Linked DNA regions of Homo sapiens: region 2 is linked to region 1. Evidence: fine-mapped expression QTL. A gene starts in region 1. The other region holds a variant in brackets. All regions are shown on one strand. Distances are between the middles of the regions.

Region 1 (5,381 bases):
TTTATTTATTTTTTTCTGTTTCTACAGAAATGCCTCCTACTAGAAATCTGATTGCCTACATTACGTCTAAAGGCCTAAACCATTTGCAGTCCCACCTCCTGGAATGGGACGTAGATATTTAACTGAACTGATCTCACCTCAAAACCAAGGGACTGCCTAAAGAAAATATGGAATGATATATTTAAATTTGCTCATTTATATTTATCCCAAATGTGTTTTTCCACTGCTATGACTGTCTCTATCTAAACACCTCTAACTTAAATCTCCCCAAAGCTATTACCTTGGCTTTTAGTATGTGAAACTTGTTTTAAATTTCAAAGTGGGGACTGAAGAAAATCAAAATATTTTACCCTCAAATATATTTCTTTGACATATTTAAAAATGGTTTCCACTGGCCAACAAGCAGAAGTGGCATTGCAAAACTGTCTTAACTGAGGAAAATTTGCGTCTGTGGACAATGTCCATTAATGCAGCCATACCCTCTCCTGTTTCTAAGCCTTTCCCAGGATCCAGAGCGATTGAGAGTCTGACACCTTTAAAGATCTGGATAGAAACATTTACCATCTTTTGCTTCTGAGAAAAGGTTCGTCTACATAACAAGGCCACCTTTGCTAGCCGAGCTTCTTCCTTCCTCTCTCTCTTAACCTGTGTTGCCACTAAAACTAATTTACCTGTTTCTGGCCATGCTTTGAGTCTCCACTCTTTACTGTGGCCTCGGAATAATACATGAGTTTCTGTAACTTACTGGGAAGTTGGGTCTTCATTCTCAAGTTTCCCAAGTGTGGTGGTTAATATTGAGTGTCAACTTGATTGGATTGAAGGATTCAAAGTATTGTTCCTGGGTGTGTCTGTGAGGGTGTTGCCAAAGGAAATTAACATTTGAATCAGTGGACTGAGAAAGGGAGGCCCACCCTCAATCCGGGTGGGCACCATCTAATCAGCTGCCAGCACAGCCAGAATGAAAGTAGGCAGAAGAATGTGGAAAGACTAGACTGGCTTAGTCTCCCAGCCTACATCTTTCTCCTGTGCTGGATGCTTCCTGCCCTCAAACATCAAACTCCAAGTTCTTCAGCCTTTGGACTCCTGGACCTTTGACCACAGACTGAAGGCTGCACTGTCGGCTTCCCTACTTTTGAGGTTTTGGGACTCGGACTGGCTTCCTTGCTCCTCAGCTTGCAGACGGCCTACTGTGGGACGTCACCTTGTGATCATGTGACTCACTACTCCTTAATAAACTCCCCTTTATGTATACATCTATCCTATTAGTTCTGGCCCTCTAAAGGGTCCTGGCTAATAGACCATGTATATACATTAAATAAATTTGTACTCCCTTTCCCCTATTAATCAACCTGTCACATGACAGTGACTTTTAGTGAAGCTTTAGGGGGCCAACAGCCTATGGCCCCCACATAAGGTATACATTGGCTCTGCCTGAAAATCAGACATATTGAAGTAGGAGAGCTTACAGGACAAAGGTGGATTCAAAGATTTTGTGATTGGCAATTTGTTGAAGAGTTAAGTTTTGTCTAAAGACTTGCGGTCAGTACAATTAAATGCTTGAGTTAAAAGGGCTTATGGGAACCATGGTTTATGTCATGTAGATGAAACCTCCAGCTAGCAGCCTTAGAGAAAACAGATGGTAAATATCTCTTTTCAGATTTTTAAGGTGTCAGACTCTCATTTATTCTCTCCTCAATCAGAGCAGAGCCAGAAACCAGCAAATTTCCCCATAAAAGATGGTTTTGCAAGACCATTTCAATATGTGTCAAAGAAATATATTTTGGGGATTAAATATATTGATTTCCTTCAGGGTCTGCTATTGTCATGTGATGCTAAACCAGAGTCAGATTGGAATTTGGTATCTTATTCCCACAAACAGTCCATTTTGACAGTCTTATGATCACTGTTTCAATGTTAATGCTGGTCAGTTGTGCCTGAACTCCAAAAGGGAGTGTGTATAATGAGGCGTGTCTGACCTCCCTTTCCATTATGGCCTGGAATTTAGTTTTCCAGGTTTCTCTGGGGTCGCCTAGGACAAGAGGGGATCCATTCAGTCAGTAGGGGGACTTGATTTTATTTTTAATTTATACCCCACTTTCAAAGTACACTGCAAATTACTTACAAAGTTCTACTTACTTTGGCCAGCAACCAGGAACTAGGCTGAATGCAATCCTCTTGCTTCCAAGGTCTGTAATAAAGTGCTCTCCCTTCCAAAGTCTGCAAGGGAAGTGATCTCACTGGAATTCCGTATCACCCTGACACCAGAGTCTAGTTAGGATCACCTCAGGGATCTCTGGGAAATGTAGTTGCAGGGCCTCAGGTTGCCTCTGTGAATCTCTTACGCAAATCTTTTTGTTAAAAATGGTGTGGATAATTATATTATCTGATGATACCCATGCCACAGGCTAGGAGAGCTGTGCCCTTGTATTTCACCTAGTTCTTGCTCTCTGGAAGTCTGATGCCAGACTTCCCATGTGTGATATAGAAGGTGAGAGCTTGAAACAGGTCAAGGAACAGCAGAACCAATAACTTAGAAGCGGCAGAAGAGGAAGATGAAAGGTTTTAGTCATACTCTCAGTTTATGGCACACTTTCATCACTTCCTATAAGGCCTCTCTTTTTCTTCTGCCTCTTTTCATCTCTCATCCTCACTCTCATTCACTTCTCTACCCAAAGGTAACACACAATGTGTCTGAAATAACTCTATGCATGTGGTATAAGTGTCACATGTATCATATGGCTTTGTTTCTGCTTTTTTGACATTAACATTAATGTAAATTTTTATTTCTCCTAGCCTGTGGCATGGGTATCATCAGATAATATAATTATCCACACCATATTTAATGAAAAGATTTGTGTAAATTTTTATTTACATTAATATTAATATAAAATATAAACATTGTATATAATGTTTTTTGACACATAACAATTGTATATATTTATTTGGTAGTGTGTGATGTTCTGATACATGCAGACATTGTGTAAAGATCAAATCATGGTAATTAGCATGTCTGTCACCTCAAACATTTATCATCTCTTTGTCATGAGAACATTCAAAATCCTTCCTTCTAGCTTTTTTTCTAGCTTCCATACCCTCTTTTCTCTCCAGTAACAACTCTTAACTTTCTACTACTCTAACTATTCTACTCTTAACTTCTATGAGCTAAATTACTTTTAGATTCCACATATGAGTGAGATGTGCAGTTTTCATGATGTAATTGTTGCCTTTAGCACCTACTGTTCCAGTACATACCTCTGGCATGCTGCCACATGAACTCGGGACTCTGTGGGAAGGCTTTCTTTTGGCCTGTGCTTGGGCAGATGGACTACAAATTAAAGCACCTGGGACCACCACTCAGCCCACATGATGGGAACTGGAGACTAAATATCCTTGTGTTCTACATGCTAAGGTGGGATTACTCTTAGGCATGTACAAAACTGCCTCCTGGTGTTGTCTACTGGGATTATGCTCCCTTTCTTTGCAGGCAGCCTGCCAACAATGCACCTTTTTATTGATCTCAAGGTGTCTTGGGTTCACTGTTATACTCCCGCACTGGTGATTCCTTAAATCATCTCCTAAATCAAAATAAGCCACTGGAATACAAATCTTTGTCTTGTGGCCTGGTTTTAGAGAAACCCAACCTAAGTCTCTTTAACTTACCAGTTCCACTTGTGAAGGACATTTGATTGCCTCCTACTCCTGGTTATTATAAACACTGATGTGATGAATGCGTTTCTAGACATCCTCTGCAGATTAGCAGAACTCGCTGGGATATATGTATTAGGAATGGGATCTGCGGAGGGGCAGATCATAGATGTACTTTTTCTTTTGGCACTGCCAGATTTCTGTCCTCTTGTATAGAAGAATTCCTACTTTCCTCATATCCTGATTGACATTTGGTGTTAGCCACCTTCAAATGTTTGACAGTTTTGTGTATCTAAGATGATAGCTCAGTGTTCTTTTCATTTTCACTTCTCTGATTCCCAGTGAATACGGGTGAATAGGTTCTTCACATACCTATTGACCCTTCACATTTCCATTTGTGAATTAAATGGCAAGGTTTTAAGAAAGAATTCCTTCTGCCAAATTAGTCGGGACACACAGGCGAAGAGAGATGGATTAAAATTCAGATCTTGCTAGAAAATCTTTGGCCAAGGTGGGGTGAGAGAGAAGCAGAGGAAATAATTCCAGCATGTAGGACTGTGATCTGGACCATTTTTGACTGAGTGTGGGAGAGGAATTGTCAATGGATTATGGTCATTTTTCTCCTTGATTGTTGGAAACCTGACACCTGGAATTAAAATGTTGCAATCCAGATTGGCACATGTGTAATTCTGAGATTGCCTCTAATTATTGTCAGTTTGACAGAGATCCTTGAGGATGTCCAGCAAGAACCGTCATGGGAAACTATGAGATGAGGAGACTTGTGACTAAGGGAGAGTAAGACCAGAGTCAAGGATCCTGGTGTCCAAGGGAAGAAACACCTGAGGCTGGGAGTGTGAGATGTCAGAGAGCTTGAGAATACCCTACAGCCTCCCACAGGGTGGTCATCAAGACCTTCAAACCAAAATTTGACTTCATCAAAGTTTTTTATGTGGAAGAAGAGCAGAATTGGGGAATACCTGAGCTGTCACTGAGTACTTCCTCACCATACAAGTAAGAGATACAGAGATGGGCTGGGCAACAACAGTGATACCATAAAGAAAAGCTCCTTCTTCACTGTGACTTATACACGTAGAAAGCATGTTGTTTGTGTCTTTAAAGAAAAGCATTAGAGTTAGTTATGTCTAGTTTACAGATTCTCACATGTGCTAACTCACTTTTATGTCAAGATTCTAAAGTTTGATAATTGACTGTTTCCTTGCTAACAACAAAACTTATATTTTTGCAGAGAAAGAAATAAATGTTCTTCCTTTCCTGATCTTCTCTGAAGAAGGGTTCTATATCCAAGCTAATTTTTTTTTTTTTTTTTTTTTTGCTTATTATCTACTTTAACATTTAGCATAACTTCTGGTTTTCACTTCAACAAGTAAAGTTTGGGATAATCCCTCCCATCTTCTCATCAATGAGAAAACTAAACAAACTGAAAATAAATCTTCTCAGATCCATGACAGAATTGAAGTCACAGCAAAGTGCTGTCCTGAAAAGAGACAGACAGTTAAAGACAGATAATCACAATTTATTCTCAATTCTAGAAACTAAAGCCCAGGTTCAGAGGACCACAGATGAAGCCAGTATTTTTAGCAACATACAAACATGTAATAATTCATGAATTGTTGAGACTCAGTGTAGACAAACTTGACAGTTTAAAACTCTTGGGTGCTCAGTCTCAGAAGGTCTTCACACTTTTGTGTTTTACCTCCAGGATGCCCACCAAGTTC
Region 2 (5,381 bases), 110 kb before region 1:
AATGACTCCATGCAGTCCTCTCAATCACTCCATGTAGTAGGTGCTATTATCATAAGTTCCTGTTGTGCAGATCTTCATGGCAGTAATTGTTTTTCCAATGAGGCGACCATTGCTCAAAACTATGATGTCCCATCCTCTCCTTCTGAGGATGGATAACCAAACTCAGCGATCTTCTTTTCAATAGAAACTTGAAGTGCTGAGATTGTTTTTCTTGGGTAGGCTAAAATAGAGCCACAAAAGGTCTTTCTTTTCCACCTCCATCCTCAGTTTCCAAAAAGATTGTTCTGGAGAGTGAGACTTAGCTGGTTGTTTAATTTATTTTCTTCATTGTCTTTTGTTTTTTGAGACAGGCTCTTGATCTGTCACCCAGGCTGGAGTGCAGTGGTGCAATCACAGCCCACAGTGCCTTGACCTCCCAGGCTCAGGAAATCTTCCCACCTCAGTCTTCAGAGTAGCTGGGACTACAGGGGTCCCAGCACCACTGCACTCAGCTAATTAAATCTTTTTTTGAGAAAAAAATTTTGAGGGGTCTCACTGCATTGCCCAGACTGGTCTCAATCTCCTGGACTCAAGTGATCCTCCGACCTTGGCCTCCCAAAGTGCTGGGATTACAGGTGTGAGCCACTGCACCTGGCAGGGTGTTTAATTTCTGTATGTCCACGGGCAAGCATCTGCTTTCTCTTTACTTGGTAATTACTTCTTGTCTAGAAGTAGAGGAGCTGTATCTAGCCCCCATCTGATGTTCTATTCGGCTGTTCTACTTTAAATTTCCTTCCCCTCTTTTCTTGACCGGCCTTTGTTCTTTTCACCAATCAAAGCTGAGCCCTTTATTGCCTAGAAAACCCCATCAACCACCCCTGCCCCTGGACTACAGCAACTTACAATTGGCATGAAACAATTTCGTTGGCAATGACCTTCTGTCCTAAATACTCTTTGCTTCCTGGGTGTTAGTCTTTTTGTACAGCCTACAACACAGTTATAAACTCTTTGAGGGCTGGCGCGACTCACTCAACCATTTACCTATCAGATCCCGGACGAGGTGATCAATATTTTGTTACTGATTATTTCAGTTGTGTTCTCAATCATATACATTAACGTTTTTCGTGGTTTTAATGCTTGCACCTTGTGGTGTGGTCATTTTTGTGTGTGCTGCTGCTGACTTTTTTCCCCAAGTAAAATCTTTTTCTTTGGGTATTGGGGAAAGTGGTGCAACATTTGGAGGAAGGGCCTCTACAAAAGTAGTTAGATGTTATCTGTATTTTCCTTTTTATTCTTGGCACGATCCTAATCCCCCCACATTTTTTTCTGGACATCTCCTTCCACGCTGATGGTGAGAATTCCTTAAGGCAGAACTTAATAGCTGCGTTGCCGATCTTCGGCTGTCAAGGTGTGGGTTCCTGGGAATAGCACATTCACTCCTATGGAGTCAGTTCTCAAATTTGTCAAAAATTCATGGCTATACTGAAAATTTAAACACTCTTCCCTGGCTCTCTAGAACGTTAATCAAAGATGCTAATATTTAACTAATGTGCTAGGTGCAGGGTTGTTCAACATCAGGATAAGGTGGTTGTGAGCAGTGAGTTTGCCAACATTCAGGAAAGGAGGAGAAAGAAAGGCAAAGTCTAGATCATTCCCAAGTTCAGCATCAGCCCTTGAACAACTGAGAGTTAACTGCCTTCGCTCTGTGTTTTCCCCTTAGTTTCAGTAGTTTTTGTCATTTTTCAAAGGCATGACCCCCTGGTTGCGCCCACAGTGATTGAGAGCACGTCTATCTCCCTTACAAGAAAGAGGTCATGGTGCCAGGGCCTCGTGTCACCCCCAGCTTCCACTCCCCCACTTCCAGGCTGGTTTCATTTCTCTTCTCTTTGCCCTTTGGCTTTTCTTTTCTTCAGAAATTTCAATTTTCCTTGCACCGAACGTATTAAAATTTAACAGTCACAGAATCTCGGTGTGTGACACGTGATGGCTTTCCCGATAACTTCATTTTCCTCTGTCATTGAAGAGGCCATTTTCAAAGTCACCCTGGACCGTGAACAGTTCTCACTTAATGCTTATTTGATTGTGTTTGTACACTGAAATTTTTGTCCTTTTGTCTCCTTGAGTCTGCTTTCTTTGGCCTACTACTAATAATATTATAATATGGGAAATAATAGTAATATAGGACATTTTAAATTCTCTCCTCTAAGAAGAGGCCAATACTGGAGAGTGAATACTTGATAAATCAAACTCCCCCTGTCCCCATCCCATACCACCCCATCTCTCTCAATTCCTCACTAAGTGGCTTCCAAGGATGGAGAATGAAGATGAGGAGGCCACATGTCTGGCTTCTGCCTTGCTGAGTGGGCGGTGGCAGTTGGAGGTGATCTGAGGAACTGTGTGGGAGAGGGGGAAGAAATAATGGGATAGATTTTGGTGGAAGGGTCTTCAGGAAATGAGGAGAGATATTGAAAGAAAAGTTGTGTGAGATTTTGCTATCCGGTGTGTGATTTCCTGATTTCCACCCCACCCCTGCCAAATCTCTTGTTTGTTTATTTATATGTTTTTGAGATGGAGTCTTGCTCTGTAGCCCAGGCTGGAGTGTGGTAGTGCAACGTCGGCTCACTGCATCCTCCGCCTCCCAGGTTCAAGCAATTCTCCTGCCTCAGCCTCCCAAGTAGCTGGGATTACAGGTACCCGCCACCATGCCTGGACAATTTTTGTATTTTTAGTGGAGATGGGGTTTCACCATGTTGGCCAGGCTGGTCTTCAACTCCTGACCTCAGGTGAACTGCTCACCTTGGCCTCCCAAAGTGCTGGGATTGCAGGTGTGAGCCACCATACTCAACCAAATCTCTTGTTTAGTTTCAGGATTAACGTGTGGCAGAGTGGGGCACCTATTCTACAAAAATGGTTTAGTGCCAGGTGTGACTTCAAGGTGAGCACAGACCATGAGTGGAAGTGAACTAAGCCCTTCCCCAGCCCCTCTGCTCCAGTTAGTTTAAAACTGCCTCCCTCAACGTGTGACCAGAGAACATAAAGTGCTCTGGGACTCTGGGATGTAGGAGTTAGTCTAAGATGAGAAAACTACCACCATCTCCTCGGGGTCTCATCTACACAGGGAGCCTGTGCACTCTCCGGTCCCCTCAAGCCCAAGTGTGCTGTGAAGTTTGACAGGTGTCATCTCTGGGGTTTCTAAAAGGCTCCCACTAAAGGATGCTTTGTGAAAGTCTGGTTTTCCTTATCAGACACGAATCACCTAAGTCTCTCCTTGTACCCAGATGGCTAAATTTGGTTTATATGATCTCACTGTGACCTTCT[C/G]TTGAACAGCTCTGTGCGTGCTGCCAAAATGAAAATGAACAATGTCAGTGCCATGATGTCCAGTTGAGCTGTGACCTGGATTCTGGTCTCGCATACACAGAAGCAACTGAAAGCTGAGAATGAGGGGCCGCCGATGGCTGGGTGTGTGGGGGCATTGTATTACTTGAGCCCATCCCTTGAAAAGCTTAGGAGTCCTCCACCTCCACTGGGAACTCATCAACTCCTGGCAAGAAGAATGTCCCTGGGCACAGGGGACAGGGATCAGCTGTCCGAGGTGAGAGTCCTCCCTGGTGAGCCCACACCTCCACGTGGGGCACTGCAGGCTGTGAAGAAAGGTGAGCAAGATGACAGTGTCGCTGCTGCTCCAGAAAGTAGGATGCAGGGCCCATCTGGCCTCGGCCCCCACACTTCTCACTCCCTGCTCTGTTGGTGCCAAGGCTTGACTTGCCTGTGAAAGGAAATGAGAAAATCACCTTGGAATTAAAAGACCAACAACAAATAGTCAACCTTGGAAGGGTCGGGCTGAAGACTCTTTTCGAAATACAGATGGAGGATAGAACAGAATGCTTGGGACCAGAAGTGTTTTGGACTTTGGACTTTTAGATTTTGGAGTATTGTCATTGTATTTACTGGCTGAGCATCTCAGATCTGAAAATCTGAAATCCAAAATGTTCCAACGTGCATTTCCTTTGAGCATCATGTCCGCCCTGAAAAAGTTTTGTATTTTGGAACATTTTAGATTTTTGGATTTGGGATGCTCAAACCTGTATTAGGTTGAACCATATAAAACTGCCAGCGTTGGTCATTTTTGACCAGCAAAAATGTCAATTTCATATGGTTCAAACTGACGTGATGGTGATTCCCCTTCTAAGTCTTCCCACTGCATTTGGAATAAAGACCATTTTTTTATTTTTATTTTTTTCTTTTGAGACAAGGTCTTGCTCTGTTCCTGGGCTGGATTGCATTGGTGCTATCATAGCTCACTGCAGCCCTGAACTCCTGAGCTCAAGTGATCATCGTCTCAGTCTCTTGAGTAGCCGGGACTACAAGTGCCTGCCATCAGGCCTGGCTAATTTTTTATTTTTTGTAGAGACAGCATCTTACTACATTGTCCAGTCTGCTCTCGAACTCCTGGGCTCAAGTGATCCTCCTGTCTCAGCCTCCCAAAGTGCTGGGATTACAGGTGTGATTGGCCTAAGACCAAATATTCTTGACTGAGCCCACCGGGCTCCCCCAACTCTCTGTCCAGCTTCACGGCTATACTTTTTGATCCTGCTATTCTCCTAACAACCTCTCCACCTCTTAGTCTTGCTCATTCTGTGCCCTTCCTGAAGGATCCCCTCTCTTCCCCAAGTAACTCATCCTTCAGATATGTGTTTGAATGCCAGTTTCATGGGAAGTCTTTTCTGACTAGGCTTTTCTGCTCCTCAATGTGCTCAGAGCACCTTCACTTTCCCTAGGAGGTGTGATCCCGGCTTGTATTGATGGATCAGTGTCCGTGTTGGATGCTTGCCTCTCCCCCAAGGGGCCCTGCAGCCAGACACCTGGAGGTCCCTCCATGTGATTGGTCATGGAAGCTTTGCCTTGTTGATACTTGTTTGAATGCTCTGTATTGAAGTAATAATTTGCATGACCATACGATAAAGGATTTTGCATTCTCTGTTCAATAGGAACTTTACCAACAGCCCTCAGACCATGAGAGTCAGTGAAAGTAATCAGAGGGCTCTGCCTTTTCTCTGCATCCCCTCCAGCGGTGCCACTACCAGTAGGGCCTTACCCCAGCCTGGCTCCCTGTCTAGACTTCTGGTAGCACCTCACTAGACTGAGTCTTGAAGGCAGAAACTGCTTGCCAATCGCTGCACAGGACATGAGGAAGGGCAGTGGTGAGTGCAATGAAAACAGTAGACATTCAACAAATATTTGTTGTTTGCATGAAACCTCAAGACAAGAGAGATAAAAGCTTTATTACCTTTAGGCTGGAAATCCCTTTACCCTAGGAAAACTTCCCCAGCCCCAAGGAGCCATGCAGCTTCCCCCTGCTTATAGCTCAGCAGTCTCCTGCTCGCTCTTTTCTTCCTGGCTCT

Alleles and levels. Alleles are on the strand shown, and positions count from the first base shown. SD is a standard deviation of normalised expression in the study named.
In carriers of allele G in region 2, the expression in cerebellar hemisphere of the gene that starts at base 2,200 in region 1 tends to be higher than with C alone (moderate effect, 0.58 SD a copy in GTEx).

The links. PIP is the estimated chance that this variant, and not a neighbour inherited with it, causes the effect. A credible set is the group of variants that fine-mapping cannot tell apart.
Region 2: its variant is the best candidate, but not a certain one, in a credible set for the expression of NAT2 in cerebellar hemisphere (GTEx, PIP 0.80).

Annotation. Positions count from the first base shown.
Region 1 is chr8:18,388,101-18,393,481 of GRCh38, reverse strand. NAT2 (N-acetyltransferase 2) reads right to left here and starts at 2,200. Exons shown (of 2, transcript NM_000015.3): 1 at 2,137-2,200.
Region 2 is chr8:18,496,926-18,502,306 of GRCh38, reverse strand. No RefSeq gene overlaps it. Among named protein-coding and RNA genes, the nearest start is that of NAT2, 110 kb to the right of the region's middle. The variant C/G (reference allele first, on the strand shown) is at 3,298.